Linked DNA regions of Homo sapiens: region 2 is linked to region 1. A link means that fine-mapping ties the variant in region 1 to the expression of a gene that starts in the linked region. Tissue or cell type: lung. Region 1 holds a variant in brackets; the other region holds the start of a gene. All regions are shown on one strand. Distances are from middle to middle.

Region 1 (8,102 bases):
ACAGGTGCAGCTAAGGCTGCAGGTGCAAAGCAATCCCAGGGTGGGCGGGCAGGGGGCCACCTGAACCTCTGTACAGCAAAACAGTGTTTTCCTGGGATCTCCCTCTTCCTGTTGTTCTGTGAAAGCACCTACCAGCCATGTGAAAAGCCACCCGGCTAACCACCCACATGCAGGCGTCTGGCACAGGGTGGCTCACTGGCCGTTCAGGGGTCGGCCCCTCCTGATGTTTGCATGTCCCCCTTGTGTGAAACTCAGATTTAATTTGGTGATTATTAAAGTGCAGGAACCTGGGGCTGGTAGAGGTTTTTTGTCCACAGATTTTGCAAAGTGCCGTTAAAAAAAAAAATTCATACGCTTTGTTGCTACCAATAAAGAGAAAAGGAAAGAAAAGAACTTTGGTAGAGAAACATCGAGAGATTTTAATATGGAGATGGGGTGGGAATTCGACCTTGGAAAACACAAGCGATCATGTGAATAGGATTTTGGCCTTTTCTAACTTAGTGTGTGCTCTGCTCTTAAGATAAATACACACACACAGAGATAGACATGGCATTTCATTTTCGGACAGTACATTCACGTGTTCGAAAATTAAAACAACATACAGAGTAAACTCTTGCCCCATCTCTCCCATCTCCCATGCCCTCAGATGGACCGCTAGTTTCTTGTGCTCCTTTTTACAATATAAGCAAATAGGAATTTCAATTCTTATTATAACAGAGGAGATAATAGCATGCAATACATACCTTGCTGTATCTTGTTCTCTTGAATAGTAAACCCTGGAGGTGTTCTCATGCCCTTTTTTTTGGCTGCACGGTGTTCCACTGCACAGATGTACCCACTTTGTGGGGTCCCCTGCCGACTCCTCCGGGCTGCTTCAGCTGTGAATTTCACGTGCATGAGTCCCTTTGGGCATGGGAGATCCGTCTTCTGCAGGGTCCGTTCCCATTGGGATTGCTTGGTCACACGTCGTGTGCCTTTGGCCTCTTGGAGGATGTCGCCAGGTTAACGCTGTAGGAGCCCTTCCTCCCTGCATCTCAGAGGGCCACGTTCAGGGTGGTTTGTTTCCCACCCCACCTCTCAGTAGAGGCTGGTCCAGCAGTTGACATTTTCACAACCAGATAGGTAAACGGTTTCTCTGTCATTTTAGTTTGCGTTTTTCTAATCAGTTGAACATCTTTTGTATATTTAAAGGCTATTTTTATGTCCTTTTCTGTGTTCTTTTCATTTGCCCTTTTAAAATAATTGTGTCGGCCGAGCGTGGTGGCTCACACCTGTAATCCCAGCACTTTGGGAGGCCGAGGCAGATCACAAGGTCAGGAGTTCGAGACCAGCCTGGCCAATGTAGTAAAACCCTGTCTCTGCTAAAAATACAAAAAGTTAGCCAGGTGTGGTGGCGGGCCCTGTTTTCCCACCTACTCAGGAGGCTGAGGCAGGAGAATTGCTTGAACCCAGGAGGCAGAGGTTGCAGTGAGCCGAGATCATGCCACTGCACTCCAGCCTGGGTGACAGAGCAAGACTCTGTCTCCAAAAACAAAAATAAAAATAAAAAATAAAATAATTGTGTCATTGGTCGTTTTCTTCTCAATTGTATATTAGGGAGATTAATTTTTGCCTGTGATATGAGTTACAAATATTTATTACTAATTTGTTCTTTGTTTTCTGACTTTGCTTTTGACATTCTTGAGCTTTATTGAGATATAATTCATATACCACACAGTTCACCCATTTAAGGTGTACAACTTAGTGGTCTTGAATATATTCACAGAGTTCTACAGCCATCACCACAATCAATTTTAGAACATTTTTATCACCTCAAAAGAAAGTCCATACCCCTTAGCAGTCACTCCCCGTCCCCTTCAGCCACCACCACTCCCAGCCACTGGCAACCACAAAACTGTGTTCTGTCTCCATGGGTGTATTAGTGCGTCCTCACGTTGCCATAAGGAAATACTTGAGACTGGGTAATTTTAAAGGAAAGAGTCTTAATTGACTCACAGTTCCACATGGCCGGGGAGGCCTCTGGAAACTTACAGTCATGGCGGAAGGGGAAGCAAACACATCCTTCTTCACATGGCGGCAGGTGAGAGAAGTGCTGAACAAAGCCCCTTATAAAACCATCAGCTCTCGTGAGAACTAACTATCACAAGAGTAGCATGAAGGTAACTGCCCCCATGATTCAGTTACCTTCCACTGCGTCCCTCCCACGAAACGTGGGGATTATGGGAACTACAATTCAAGATGAGATTTGGGTGGGGACACAGCCAAACCGTATCAGTGGGTTTCCCTATTCTGGACATTTCATATCAATGGATCCATGAAATATGTGGCCTTTTGCGTCTGGCTTCCTTCACTTAGCGTCATGCTTTCAAGGGTCATCCACACCGTAGCATGTATCAGTATCTCCTTTCTTTTTATGGCCAAATAATATTCTGTTGTACAGCTAGACCACATTTTATGTGTCCATTCACCAGTTGATAGACATTTGGGCTGTTTCTACTTTTTGGATATTTTGAATAACACTGTTGTAAATGTTTGTGTACAAGTTTCTACATAGACATATGTTTTCATTTCTTAGACATGGAATTGCTGGGTCTGATGGTAACTCTGTGTTGAACATTTTGAGAAGCTGCCAAACTGTTCTCCGCAACGACTGTACCATCTTACATTCCTACCAGTGCTTTTGGCATTTTTTGACATGTAAATGTTTTTATCAAATTTATTACTTATTTCTTTTATGGCTCTGGATTTTGAGTTTTAGAAAGGCCTTTTTTTCTCACGAGATGATAAAGGAAGTCTCCTGTTTTCTTCTAGTACTTTGATGGGTTATATTACACTCTTTGGTCTGTGTTGAGTTTATCTTGTATGTGGTGTGAGTATGGAGCCAGCATTTTCTTTAATGTAGCTGCCTGTCTGTTTCAGTACCATCTGTTGAGAATGCCATCTTTTCTCCTCTGCTTTGAGATTCTACCCTTATCATATACCAAACTGGGTCTATTTCAGAACATTCTGTTTCATTGGTCTCTGTAGGTATGCATGTACGTTCATACTAATATGCTGTTTTAGTTATGGAGGCTTAGTAATGTGTTTTGGCATATTATATGGTACGGGCTAGTCTAGGAGGGTTAGCTTCCCCACTGTTCTTTACAGAGTTTTCCTGACTAATCTCACTTGTTTATTTTTTCATTAAAAACTTGAAAATTAGTCTGTCTTAAGACCATGGGGATTGGGAGTACTGTTGATATTTTAGATTGGGATCATATTAGACTTCTGAATTAATTTAGGGAGAATTTACACCTTTTTGAGGTTGAGTCTTCCTATCCCTCACACAGGATTTATTTCTATTTGTTCAGTCTTGCTTTTCTGTTCTTTAAAGTTTTTTTTTTTTTTTTCTATCAATTTTCCCAGTTCTTATAAGTTCATTCCTGGGTATTTTATCTTTTGTGTTGCTGGCGTGTCTTCTTGCTCTTGAAAGCAGATTGTTGTTAGCAAGAGTGGTTGGATATAAGCAGAGCTCCCAGACCCCTTTGCTGTGGCCTTGCTGTGTCCACAGAGAGACAGAGGCACAGTTGTGGGGTGGAGTGTGGGAAGGGGGGATCGCACCCTTGGTGGTCTCTATTTATCCCTCCAAACACTTCTGAGGCTTTGAGGCTCTTATTAGCCTTGTACACATGAGAAACTGAGGCACAGAAGTTTAATGATTTGCCAAGTTCCCTCAGGGCACACCCGAGCTGGGATTCCAGCCCAGGCCTGTCCAGCCCATACTACCCCACCGTCCTGCCGGAGGACTGCATGCTTTCCTGAGCACAGCCCAGAGTGATGGGGTGCGATTGCACATCACGCAGCTGTGCAGTCTGGGGCATGTCCCTTCTCCTCACTCGGCCTCTGTCTGCTCATCTGCAAGAGTGGCTAAACCAGTTGGTGATTTGCTCACTTCTCCAAGAGTGTGCCCTCCATGGAAGACAATATCTGGAACAGAGTTGTGAGCTGCTGGGGTGGAGCCCAGAGGCCGTGCTCAGCAGTCCTGTCTTCAGCACCCCGATGTGGCCCCAGGCAGCTGAATGCGAACGAGTGCCCACCAGCCCCTCTGAGAGCCTTGGACATACCTTCTGCATCGCTAGTCCTGCTCAGAAGCCACCCCCAAAACTGTGAGCCCTGCTGGTCGACTCTATTCAAGGTCTGTGGGCGCAGGCAGTACATTAGCCTCGGCCCCCCGCCAGAACCCTGTGTGCTTTGGAAAGGTCCCTTGACTTTTGTTAGGCAAAGAATTCTCTTCACGCCAAGCTGCGAGCGAGGTGGTTTCAC[G/A]AGTCCTGTCCTGAGTGTGTGCTGGCTGGAATGTACACCACAGAAACAAAATGTTTGTTTTCCAATTGTGAGAGCACCGGGAGGCCCTTTGGCGTCAGCTCCCACACCTTCTGTGTTCGGGCAGGCCATCTGCCATCTGGGGCCTGGTGCAGAAACGTCGCCACCGTGTGGCCTGTGGGGTGCCCTCGGAGAGGGGCCCCTGGGTTGGCCACCATTCAGAGGACACGCGTGGCTCTGGGCCTCCAAGGTCTGTTCTTACCCACGGCATCCTGGGGTGTAGGCCTCAGGACCCCAGGGCTGTGCAAACAGAGGCCCAGTTGGGAGGGCCGACCGGGTGGGCCCTTCCTTCCTACCTACCCTCTGCCCCCAGGCTGCACGATGCACCCACTGTGAACCAGGCCGTGGCATGTGGGGTCAGGGTTCCCTGCACGCTTGGCAGGAAATGGGGTACACACAGGAGCTTGGGCCTGCTTCCGGAGTGGCTGCTGCAGAGGCGGGTTTTGGTGGGAGAGAAGGAATCTGCCAGTGAAGAGGGAGACAGGGCGGGGCCGTCAGGATGGTGCTGACCCAGGGCTGGTGCAGAGGGGGTTTATGTGGCTGAAAGAGGTTTGCTATAGAAGGAGTCAGAGCCTGAGTGGGAGCAGCAAGGGCGGAGGGCCCAGGAAGCAGAGCCTGAGGAAGAGGGGCCTTGGGAAAGGCCAGCCCGAGAGTGGTGGCCGGGCTCTGGCCTGCGTGGCGGGTTTGGCCCGATGAGCACCACTCTGGTGAACTTGACAACTCCCCAGGCCAACGGAGTGACTTTCTAGGGCTCCGTTATGAGTAACCCTCTGTTGCTGATAGCCCACGGGATGAGTGGAGTCCACAGGGCACCTGCTGGAGCCCACGCTTGCCTTCCTTGGGTCTGGCAGGGGAGATAGTAGGCTGGGCCTGCTGGCCCTAGGTCCGTCTTCAGAGGCCTGGGATTTTAGGTGTCTGGGCTGGGGATGGGCTGTCCCCAAGATCAACTCCTCCTTCCCCCACTCCTTCAGCCTCCGGAGGCCATAGGTAATTTTCCTTAGAGTCCTTGTCCCCAGCTGGGTCCTAGGCCTCGAGTTACCGTAGGCAAGGCTACACTGTGTAAAGAATCCAGCGGGAGGGGTGCCCCCAGGATGCACAGCATGAGGGCCCCAAGAGAGCCACCAGAGCGGGGACAGCAAGGCCAAGGGATGGCTGGGGGTGTGGAGACCATGGAGAGAGCCCCAAGCTGGTGCCACCCTTCCCGAAGTGACTCAGCGTGGCCTGGACTGGCCGCCACACAGCATACCTGGCTCTGGCACCACCTGGGCCTCCCAGATCTGGAGGGGATGTCAGATTTGGGGCAAGATACCTTGTCCACAGAAAAGGAAAAATGGCGCCTGCCCTGTGAGTCTGACCAGTCTGAGACAGTGCCGCCAAAGTCTGTCCCCTGCTGTACTGGCTTCTGGAACGGGGTGACCACAGTCTGGCTGGCATGTGGCAGGCGCTCAGTACACATTTGTTGGCCTCTGCAGAAATGAGCTAAGGAAACTGTCACAGGAAGGTGGGAACTTTCCTAGTAACTGACCAGGGCCAGCCTTCCACCCTGAAGATATTTACCACCCCCACTGGGCCATTTGCTTCTAGAACCTGTGGTCTGGGAAGAGTCTTGAGTATCCATTGCCAAATCAGTGGAGCTTCCAGGGCCCTGGAGTACCTTCCCGCTCCTGGCAACCTGATTTCCCTATTTTCAGGCCCTGGCAACCTGGCTTCCCCATCTGGGTTTTGCTGCCAGTGTTGCCCTGATTCCTGAGGGTAAGGAGGCAGTCCAGACTCAGAAGGGCTGCCTCTTTGGGGTCCAAAGGTGGTAAGCATTTCACAAAAATGGGCTGGGCATGATGCTGTCCCCCGCTTTTCTTTTTTTGGAGAGACAGGTCTTGCCCTGTTGCCCAGGCTGGAGTACAGTGGTGCAATCTCGGCTCACTGCGACCTCTGCCACCTGGGCTTCAGTGATCCTCCCACCTCAGCCTCCCGAGTAGCGGGGACCACAGGCATGCGCCACTATGTCAGGCTAATTTTTAGTTTTTTTGGTAGAAATGGGGTTTTGCCATGTTGCCCAGGCTGATCTCAAACTCCTGGGCTCAAGCAATCCACCTGCCTTGGCCTCCCAAAGTTGTGGGATGACAGGTGTGAGCCACCCCGCTTGGCTGATGCTATCCCTTTTTAAGACTGGGCACCAACACGGCCCTGGGCGAGCAGCTGACCTGGCCTACACAGGAGGTGGCTGGGCAGCAGCAGAAGACCAGATGCCCAGGGGAAGGGCCCTGCAGAGCCTGGGCAGTCAGCCCCTAGGGAAAGGTTGGCCATGCCCACAGCCTTCGAGGCATCTCTAGCACCTGCAGCCTCAGAGGAAAAGAAGCCACCACCACCTGACCCCTCTGGCCCCAGGGGCAGGGGCAGCAGCTTCCTGTGAGAAAGAGTACGGCCTTCACGCAAAATCCAGATTTACCAGAGATGGGTTAAAGATGGGCCAAAAATATGCTTGTGCCTTTTTTTCTTTTCTGAAATAGTTTTTTAAAAAGCCTAGGAAACCACATGCCTTGCCGTCTTGGTTGTTTCTGTGCCAGCTTCCAGCACAAATGGGACTTAGAAAATTTCCAGGCTGTTGGCCATCCATTCTCATAGCCTGGTGTTTTCTTGATACTTGGAGAATTCTGTTCTCATGCAAGCGTCTGTTTGGGGAGGAAATGCGTCCACTCAGCCAGAGCCTGGGGCCCCTGCAGCTTTCAGCAGGGCAGCTGCCAGGCCAGGCTGGGGACCAGCTCTGCTCGTGACTTGTGAGTTGGGCTTGTTGATGGCCCTTTCTCAGAGGGACTCGAGGTAGCTCCATGAAGACCTCTAACACAGAGCGCCATAAAACTGGACTAAAAAGAGGGAGAGAGCAAGGGAAGGAGGAAACGCAGCTGGTCCCGCCATGAGGAGCAGTGGCACAGGAGGGAAGTGGTCTTCGCTTGCCCAAAAGGGAGGCACTTGAGCACCTCTGGGAGACGGACTTGGCGCAGGCAGGGGCCCAGAGGAAGCCTCATGTGGGCACTACACTTAAGACACCGACTAACCGAGGAGAGGCGTCCCCAACAACCACCCCTCCCCAGCACATGCCAGGCAGGCTGGGGCCAGGAACTGGACTCCCCACAGGGCCCCGTGGCCAGTCTCTGACCATGGCTTGACATTCCCGTTCTAGAAAGAATAGTAGTACTAAGAAGCAGGTGCATAACCTATAACTACATTAACACCCAGGGTGCTTTTACCTGTGGCTTTAGATTGGGTCTCTAGAAGCGGGGCCTGAGCCGGGGATTCTCGTGCCAGTGACACAGAGAGGGATGCTCCCAGCAAGAACCTTCAGGGAGGCGAGGGAAGCCCATGAACTGCAGAGGCCCAGGAAAGAGGTGGGCTCAGCTGAAGTCGCTTCTCAGCCTGGTGCTTTGGGAGCTGCGAAGTGTGACTAGCACGTGGGACTTGATCCCGCCCAAGAGGAGGGACAGCTCCTGTCCCTGCACCTGTTGGTCATTGGCTGGGGGTGACCCCAAAGGGAAAGGGTAACCTCCTTCCTATCCTAGATCTCCCAGCCCAGAGTAGTTCCGGAAGGGGCAGCCATGAACTGTCAGAGCCAACACTCACAGCAGTGGAGAGTGGGCACTGCTGTGGGTTTGGGACTCCAGGTGGGACACCAGCAGCCTGGCTTTCCTCTTAGGATCCTTGCAGTGGCCCTGTGAAGCAGCCTGGCCAGAGACAGCAGTTCTGCTTCC
Region 2 (8,102 bases), 110 kb before region 1:
AAAAGATCTTTGCTTTTGGTTAATATAATAGATTGACAAACTGCTGAGGAGAGTTAAGAAATTCACAGGCTAGTATGTAGGCTAAATGTTCTTTTCGTACTGCTCCCAGGAATGTTCTGCCTTTTAGAACTAGAGGCTGATTTCTTTTCTTGACATTTTAAATCCAAAGGATTCAGCCTTTAGATTGGGTTTTTAAGCTCTGTGAAATCACCAACTGTATCTAGTTTTAGTTTCCTTTCTACCTAATGAAAATGAAATTTACTCAGTTTCATTTTTAGGGGGAAAGGCAGGAGAGCAGTAGCTTTGAGCATATCACTAGGGATGAATTCAAAATCGATTTTTCTTGAGGCAGTGACTTATGGCAGATAGTTGACAAGAGAAAAATTAAGTTTTGAGCTTATATCTCAAATACTGAATGTGAATTCCACTAAAGAATATTTAAGAAAAAAAGTTGAAATGGTTTCATTTAAAGATGGTAACATAAACATTTAGCCTGGTCTACAGTTGAAATATTTTCTAGATTAAATGCAATTTATAATATAGCAATATGAAAATACTGTAATTTGTTTTTAGATATGTTTTTGGTGGGGTAACTGAAGCAAACTAGGGAACTCACCATGTTATAATGATAATAATTAGCATCTACTTCATGTAAGATCATAAACAGATGCTTTTGAACCTTAGTATTAGGATAATAAAATAGGCTTAATAAGTTTTACTTATGCCATTTACTTTGATTGTAGATAGTGAAAAGCCTTTCTTACACTTTTTTAAAGCTTTTTATTTACCATACATAAACTTTTAAATGTTTGTTATTCATGCTTGTGTTTTCTTGTAGCACATAATACCAGTAGTTACTATTAACTTTGAAAAAAAAATATGAAGTTGAAATAAGTTTTAACTGTTGCTCTGTTCTTTTTAGCTTACTTTACCAGAACTCTTCCCTCCAGTGAGTTGCAAGCGTGACATTTGCTGTGTTTTCAGCACCTGCCAACTTGGAAAGCAGGGTTTGTGTTCAGGACTTAGGCTCACAACCCATACTTTGTGGTGCACAATGCTGGCCCAGCTGGCATGCTTTCGTACCTCAATGGTGCTAGACAGTCAGTTACAAAGCTGTGTGGCTTCACATGCGCTGATCTCAATAGTCACTCCTCTTCAAGCTGCTTTCAACTCTTATTTTGTATCAAAGGAGTGGGATTGGTATTATTAAACTCATTGCTGAGGTTATTTTTCAGTGAAAATAAATTGTTTTATTTAGTTCTTGGATCAAAGAGTAATTTTGTCCTCAGCAACCAAATACCTCTTTAAAAAGGTGTGTGTGTATATATATGTATCATTCATGTATGTATGTATGTATGTATATACACACATGCATGATTCCAGCCAGAGCTATAATTCATTTCTTATTTTCATCAGTGGATAAAAAGAACAGACAGGAAAGAACAGAGGGATTAATGTGTCATGTGATCCCTACATGCTAATGTAGGTAGGGTTACTAGTTGTAGCTGGACAAAGATGTGGGAAAATTTACAGAACTTTTTTTTCTGAGTAAGACGTGAAAATTGCCCCCATGATAGGTTCAGATTTTTTATTTCCATCTGTAACCAGAAACTTCTTATATTTTCCAAAGAAGTATATTTTGCTAACATATTTCCAGTCACCTATCTTTTTGAAAATACTTAAGGTGGACTTGGTGATGTCTGTCTTCTCATAATTTATTATAAGCAATTTTAAAAAGGTTCTGCTTTTAAAAAGATCTTTTCAAATGTAGAAAGAACAGTGTGAAATGTGAATGACTGGCTTTTAATACAAGGGTTGTGACAAAGAGGCAGTGGCTTTTGGAAGCCAAATAAAGGGGTGAATACACGTGCATCTGCATACTGCTGTTGGATCCAGTGTATAACGTTTGGCGTTTGTTTAGTTCACTTGTTAGTCTAAAAAGGATAGTATGTTATTCTCTCAAACCAGTTTATAATTTTTTAGTGGTAAGCTCTTTTTACAACCATACCTACAGATAGATTTGATGGGAAAAACTGAACATTTGCTGGTACTTGTTCAAGCCTCAAAGCTCAGCTCTTTGTTTGAACGTCACATTTATCTGGTTCTAAAGGCATAAAAATAAAACACCCACTAACTACCTAAGACACTCCTTAGTGCATATCAAAACCCAACCTTTACCCTCGTCTGCACAAATGTGCTTAGGTGAATACTTTTATTAGCTTGTTGATACAAGTTATAGTAGGTTACACCCTTAATAAAACACACCCTTATTGTCATCCTGTTGCTTAAGAGCTTTAAACTTGTAATAGGGGAGCTCTCTAATATAGAATGATACTCAATTTCTATCTCCCAGGCAGTTTTGAGTGGAAATGTGTTGCACACCTTACACACAAGTGTGCCTCTATTTGGTAGTCCTCCTTTGGGAGAACTAGGATTGCTGTGTTTTATCCCTGGCTTTCATATATTTTTTGTTTGTTTGTTTGTTTGTTTTTTGAGATGGAGTCTTTTTCTGTCACCCAGGCTGGAGTGCAGTGGTGCGATCTTGGCTCACTGCAACCTCTGCCTCTCAGGTTCAAGCGATTCTCCTGCCTCATACTCCTGAGTAGCTGGGATTACAGGTGTCTGCCACCATGCCTGGCTAATTTTTGTATTTTTAATAGAGATGAGGTTTCACCATGTTGGCCAGGCTAGTCTCAAACTCCTGACCTCAAGTGATCCGCCCGCCTTGACCTCCTAAAGTGCTGGGATTACAGGCGTGAGCCACTGTGCCGGGCCGTCATATATTGGTCTTGATGTAAAAGACTGCAAGTAATCCCTGCATTTTATATTTCCCAGGGTGTTCTCCGGCTTAATCAGGTTAGCGTTGGTTGGTGATAATGGAAAAGTTACAAGTAATAGTTTTTAGATTATTTATGGATTTATTCCTAAATTGGCCTATGAATTTGCATTTAGGTGTCTGGTTGTGTGCAAAATCTGGTTTTGACCATTTTGGATTGAACAAAGATAGACAGTTTAGCTCCATGTCCCCACCCCATTGCAGCTTTTACATAGCTTTAAATCTAGAGTTCTACATTTTTAGCTACTCTTCTGAATTGAGCAGAACTCTAATATAACAACAACCTTTTGGGTAGAATTTTTTCTTAGTAAAGAACTATGGAGCTGAGCACTAAGAAGTGAGGATGTTTTATAATATAGCTGTAGGATTATTATATCATGTGGGAAGAACCTATAGTATGGAAGGTTAAGTGTGACACAGGTCTTAATGTATGCATATCTTTTTAGCCTTTGGAGATACAAATCTAGAAAATGAGAAGTAACTATTTATTGGTTAATAGCATAACTTCTTAAGCAAGTATATTCTAGACAGCCTCAAGAAAGCCTCAGAACCAGAAAAACAGGCTGCTTTAGGTTGGAAAGGAGGTGTTACAGCAGAGGAACTGGCCATGACCACCATCCTTGGAATGTGAAACGCAAATCATCCTGAAAGCAACAAGAATAATGGTTGTAATAATTGTTTCCAGGCCTGGGACCCTGCATCTTGTTTTTTAAGTTGACCTGATGAACTAGTAATTGTAGGAATAAACTGAATGTTTGCCAGCAGGAGTCACTCTAGGCTTCCTAATAAAACGTTAGTAAATTAAACTCTGTCCTTAAAGCTCTGAAAGGCTGAGGTGATTGTGTGATATCAGATGGCTTTAGGGAAACACTGACTCTTTTCGTTAAGCATAGCAGCATTCTTAGATTATTCCTTGGGCCTTCTTTTGTTCACCATCGGTTCTTGGATCTTGTTCCTTTCAAGATTGGTCCTTAATGCATTTTTAAAAAGCAACGTATATGGGTAAGGATATCAATATCTTAGTATGCTGTATTCTGTATGTTAGCTCATTTTGGCTTTCTAGGATGAACTGACTCTATCCCACATCATGTAACTTGAAATGAATAGACTCATATCCTTTCCACTGATTGCTGTCCATTCTAATCATGCAGCAGAACTCAGTGGAGCGAGCTGTAGTGTGAAAGGAGATGTCAGTTCATGCTTTTCTGAAAAGAATGGGTCCGGTGTGATGATATTCTGAAATATTTCAGCAATAGCCATGAAATATAATAGTTTCCCAAGCACACAAAGCTCAAGAAGTTAATTGTTCATTTATGTTTGATACTGGGATTGAAACATTGGATTAAAACCAATTAAATGTTCCTAGAAGCAACAGAAAAAGTTTCCTTATTTATGAATAGAACCATTCAAATGGCGCAGACACAATCCATGTAAAGTAATGAGGTGTTTTGTTTTTTTGGCAAAGGAGAACACAAAACAGGCATAGGGAGTTTTAAAAAAACTTCTCTTTAAAAATCGCTTTTTGGATACAAGGTCAATAAAATAACATACACCAGTAGGAAGGAGTAATGGGAAATCTAGGGCTTCACAAGGAAAACAATCCCCCTCCCCCAGGTGAGCAGCACAATGAAAATACTCTGCTTATTCTATCAGGGTTACATTCCTGAACTTAAGTCAACATCCTAAGTTACAGAACTAAACATGCTCTGCCTCTGCTTAGCAACCACAAATCCTTCCTTCGCCAGTTGCATGTATTTTGGATGTGGCTTCTGAAGTACACAGTCACAGCGCCCCGAGTTAGGAAATTTGCGCTTTATTTTCCCAAAGTGTGACAACACTTTAAGGTCCCCCCTCCCCGACCCCACCCGCCCGCTGTCCTGCACGCCACTGAAGTGATCGTTTCTTTTGAACCTCGGCATCTAACAACCCGGAAGCTGGACGCCTGAAGCCTATGCGGCCCAGCGTTTTCATCCCGGCTCGTGCTGGGGGCGGGGAGAGAAGCCCGTAGGGCCTCTGGCGCGGGGCCCGGGCAGCCGCGGTGGCGCGGCCCAGGCCCGGGGCCACTTCCCGCGTCCCGGGGCCTCGCAGGCGCGAGCGCGGCGAGCGGCGCGCGGCTGAGCCCGCAGGACGCCCTCTAGCCCCGCCGGCGGCGCGCCGCGAGTCCCTCACTCCCCGCCCATCGGCGGCTGCGCGCACTGCACACTCGCCTGCCGCCGCCGCCGCACGCCGCCTGCCTCCTGCACGCCGCCGCCGCGCCTAGCGCCCGGGCCCGCGACACCGCCCGCTAAGCGCCGGGCCGAGTTCACGCAGCCGCGGTCTGGCGGCTCCGCGGCGGCGGCGGGTGCGGGCGGCCTGGCCGGTGCCGGTTAAAGGGACGAGTTGCAAACACTTCAGGAAGTGACAAGTCGATTTCCTCCTCCCCGGGAGTCGCTCGTACAAAGCGCTCGGCGCCGGCAGGCGAGCGTGCGCGCGGCGGACGCGCGGCGGGCACCCCGGACGACTTGGCGAGCGCTGGCGGTGACGGCGCGGGGTCCGCGCCCGGAGCGCCCCGCCGCGCACAGTAAGCGACCCGGGGCCGGGCGGCGGCGGCGGTGGCCGGGGGGCTGGCCCCGAGCGAGGTCCGGGCCGTGTGCGTCCCGGCCGCTGGCTGGAGGGAGCCCGGCTCGCGTGCGCAATGGGCTTGCCTTTTTTTTTTCTTTTTTCCTAATGTTGCTGGTTTCCTTTTTTTCTGCCTTGTTTCGCCTTTGGGTTGGGTCGGGCGGTTTCTCCGGGCGCTCGGTCTCGCCCCTGATGCAGGCGTGAGACTTGTCAGAGCACAGGCATGGGGAAGAACAAGCCTGGCTGCGGCGGAAAAGTCTGCGCTCCCCAGGCCAGGGCGGGCGGGCGCGGGGACTGCTGCGCCCGGGGGTGTCCTCTCCGCGTCTCAACTTGAGCCCTGACTAGCCGCTGCGGAGGAGGCGCGGAGTCTCGGGAGCCGGGCGGCCCCATTCGCCCCGAAGTTCCCGCATCGTTTGCAGACAACTCTTTTGTTCGCGGAAGTTTGCACCCGCCACCCCCGGGGTGCGGGAGCGAGGCGGCGGGCTCCGCTGCTGCTGGACTGTCCGGGGCGGTCAGGATGGGGGTGAGGGGGCATTCTGTCCCGGGCGGGGGAAGCCCGCGGGGAGGCCACCGCTGGGGCTTGCGGAGTGGGGGCGTCCGCGCCGGCGTGGCTTTTGCACATGGCGAGAAGGGCCGTCCGGCACAGGCACACTGGTCGAGTCACATTTTTGCTAGTCTTGGATTTTGCAAGCCCGTGGGAGTCAGGTTCCCCGCTCAGGGTTTCTCTTGGGGCAGAGACGAAAGAAACGAGGACACCCAGAATCCGGGGAGGGTTTGCGGTTTGTGTTGTCCCAAGTGTGTTCTCGCTCCCCCCGCCCCCCCACCTTGTCCCCCAGCCCCCAGCTCTCCACCCCCATTTTCGGACTTGGGGAACAATGCTTGTAGTACGGGCCGGGGCGCCGCAGCAGCGACGAACCGCGCGGACAGGTTTGCCCGGGTCCCTCGCGTTCGGACGCCCCCTGAAGCCGAGCTCCTTCCATCTGACCGCCCGGGCTCATTAACACGTACTGTACTTAGGACGATGGTGAACAAAGAAAAGCTCTTTGCAGCGTTTGATGAATGGGATTCTGCCTCCTATAGGCCACACTCCGAGTCTTCCATACGGTACAATCTCCGGACTCGGTGGTGTTAGGAAAGTGGCCCCCGGAATGGCTTGCATTCCGGGTCTGGGATCCTGGGGTGGGCATTTGTGCCGTCGCCTTCGCCGCCGCGCTCGCCTTGCAGGAGCGGGTGCAGATGGAGCCAGGCTGACGGTTGTTCAACAGGAACAAATGTTTGTTCAATTGTTGGATGGTGGAGAAAAGGGACTGTTTCCTATTGACTGCTGCAGGAGTTGGAATGGCATTGTTTATTGGCCTGGGAAGCCAGGCAAGCGTCTTGTGCTGCTTACAACATATTAGCAGACTTCCAAATGACATGCTAGCATATGTGTTCCCAGCAGTCCCCACCGGCTGGCAGGGAGATTCCTCCTTGCTCCAGATCCTGGACTCGTTTAAAAGATGCCACCTGGTTTGAGGACTTGGGAAGGAATGGAGTCAGCCGACCAGGTGAAACTCACTGTTCCTTATTAGGCCAGGTTTTTGTTTCATTTTAATTTATCTATTTAAGAGTAACTTGTGTCAGTTACAGTTTTGATATTGAATTGCAGGTCTACAGGGTCCCCTCCCCCGCCTCTAGCTGTGGACTACAGAAACAGCTACTTGTCCCAGTTGATAGTCCCATTCAGTGGGAGAAGGTTTGGCTCAGGATTGGTAGCCCTTGACTCTGTGTCTGCACTTGGCTGTCACCCATCATGCGACCTGGGAGTCTGCCGATCCAGCTTCCAGGCGCTTTTTCAGGTTAAAAAGCTAAGGAGAGGCGTGGGGAAGGCCTGTATTTTTTTCTTCCAAACGTTCCTTCAGAGAACGAGGCGATTTAAATTCAAATAATGTTGCCCAACGACTTCCTATTTTCTTCTGAGAAGGTGAGATTCATGTGCAGTCATTTTGATATCAAAGACAAGTTTTTAAATAGAAACTAGCAACCTCACTGCTGCAGAAGTGGACTTGAATGTTCCAGTCTTCTCAGGACAAAGTAGAGAGCATTCCACTGTCTTGGTTCATAATGTTTTAAATCAGTTTCCCTCTTCTCTTTTCAACGTGGGGTATGTTGCACATAGCATTTTGAAAGTACGCAAAGTTCTTTTGGAAAGAGCTTTATGATACCTTATTGTCACCGTGGTGGTTACGCTTAATTGACATTTTATGGGAAGTCCTGGTATTATTTCCTGGGCTCTTTCTGTTTCCATCTTTTAGTCTTTCTCTTTCCCCTTATATATTCTCTCACTGCCCCGCTAGCCTCTCCATCCTCTCTACAGAAGCCTAGTGGGCTTGGGTTCCTTTAAGCGGGTCCAGTGAGCAGGCGCCTGACCCTTGATTGAAGCTCAGGAAGGGCCAGCCTGCTCTCCTCCCCTTTTGGAGGCCAGAGAGGAGAGAGCTGTGTTTAAATATTAGGAGCTGGCAGCAGGGGACGCTGCGGAGCTCTTTTAAAAAGCACACTCTTCTCACCCACCGCTCGATGCCTTGGGCCCTGAAGACTGAGTTCTGGGCCCACCTTCAGATTGTTCAGTTGATGTTTTATTTGGGCAGCGTGACTTTCTGCAGTTAAATTGCGCATTGTATGGAAAACT

Evidence for each region. PIP is the estimated chance that this variant, and not a neighbour inherited with it, causes the effect.
Region 2: it holds the start of FAM53B, and the variant in region 1 is fine-mapped to the expression of FAM53B in lung (TOPMed, PIP above 0.99).

Annotation. Positions count from the first base shown.
Region 1 is chr10:124,628,534-124,636,635 of GRCh38, reverse strand. All of the region lies in intron 4 of FAM53B (family with sequence similarity 53 member B), which reads left to right. Among named protein-coding and RNA genes, the nearest start is that of FAM53B-AS1, 71 kb to the left of the region's middle. RefSeq lists an enhancer at 5,933-6,785. The variant G/A (reference allele first, on the strand shown) is at 4,303.
Region 2 is chr10:124,741,307-124,749,408 of GRCh38, reverse strand. FAM53B (family with sequence similarity 53 member B) reads left to right here and starts at 5,031. Exons shown (of 5, transcript NM_014661.4): 1 at 5,031-5,396. RefSeq lists enhancers at 155-354, 8,030-8,102 and silencers at 4,793-4,932, 5,063-5,112, 5,133-5,242, 5,293-5,452, 5,773-5,982 and 1 more.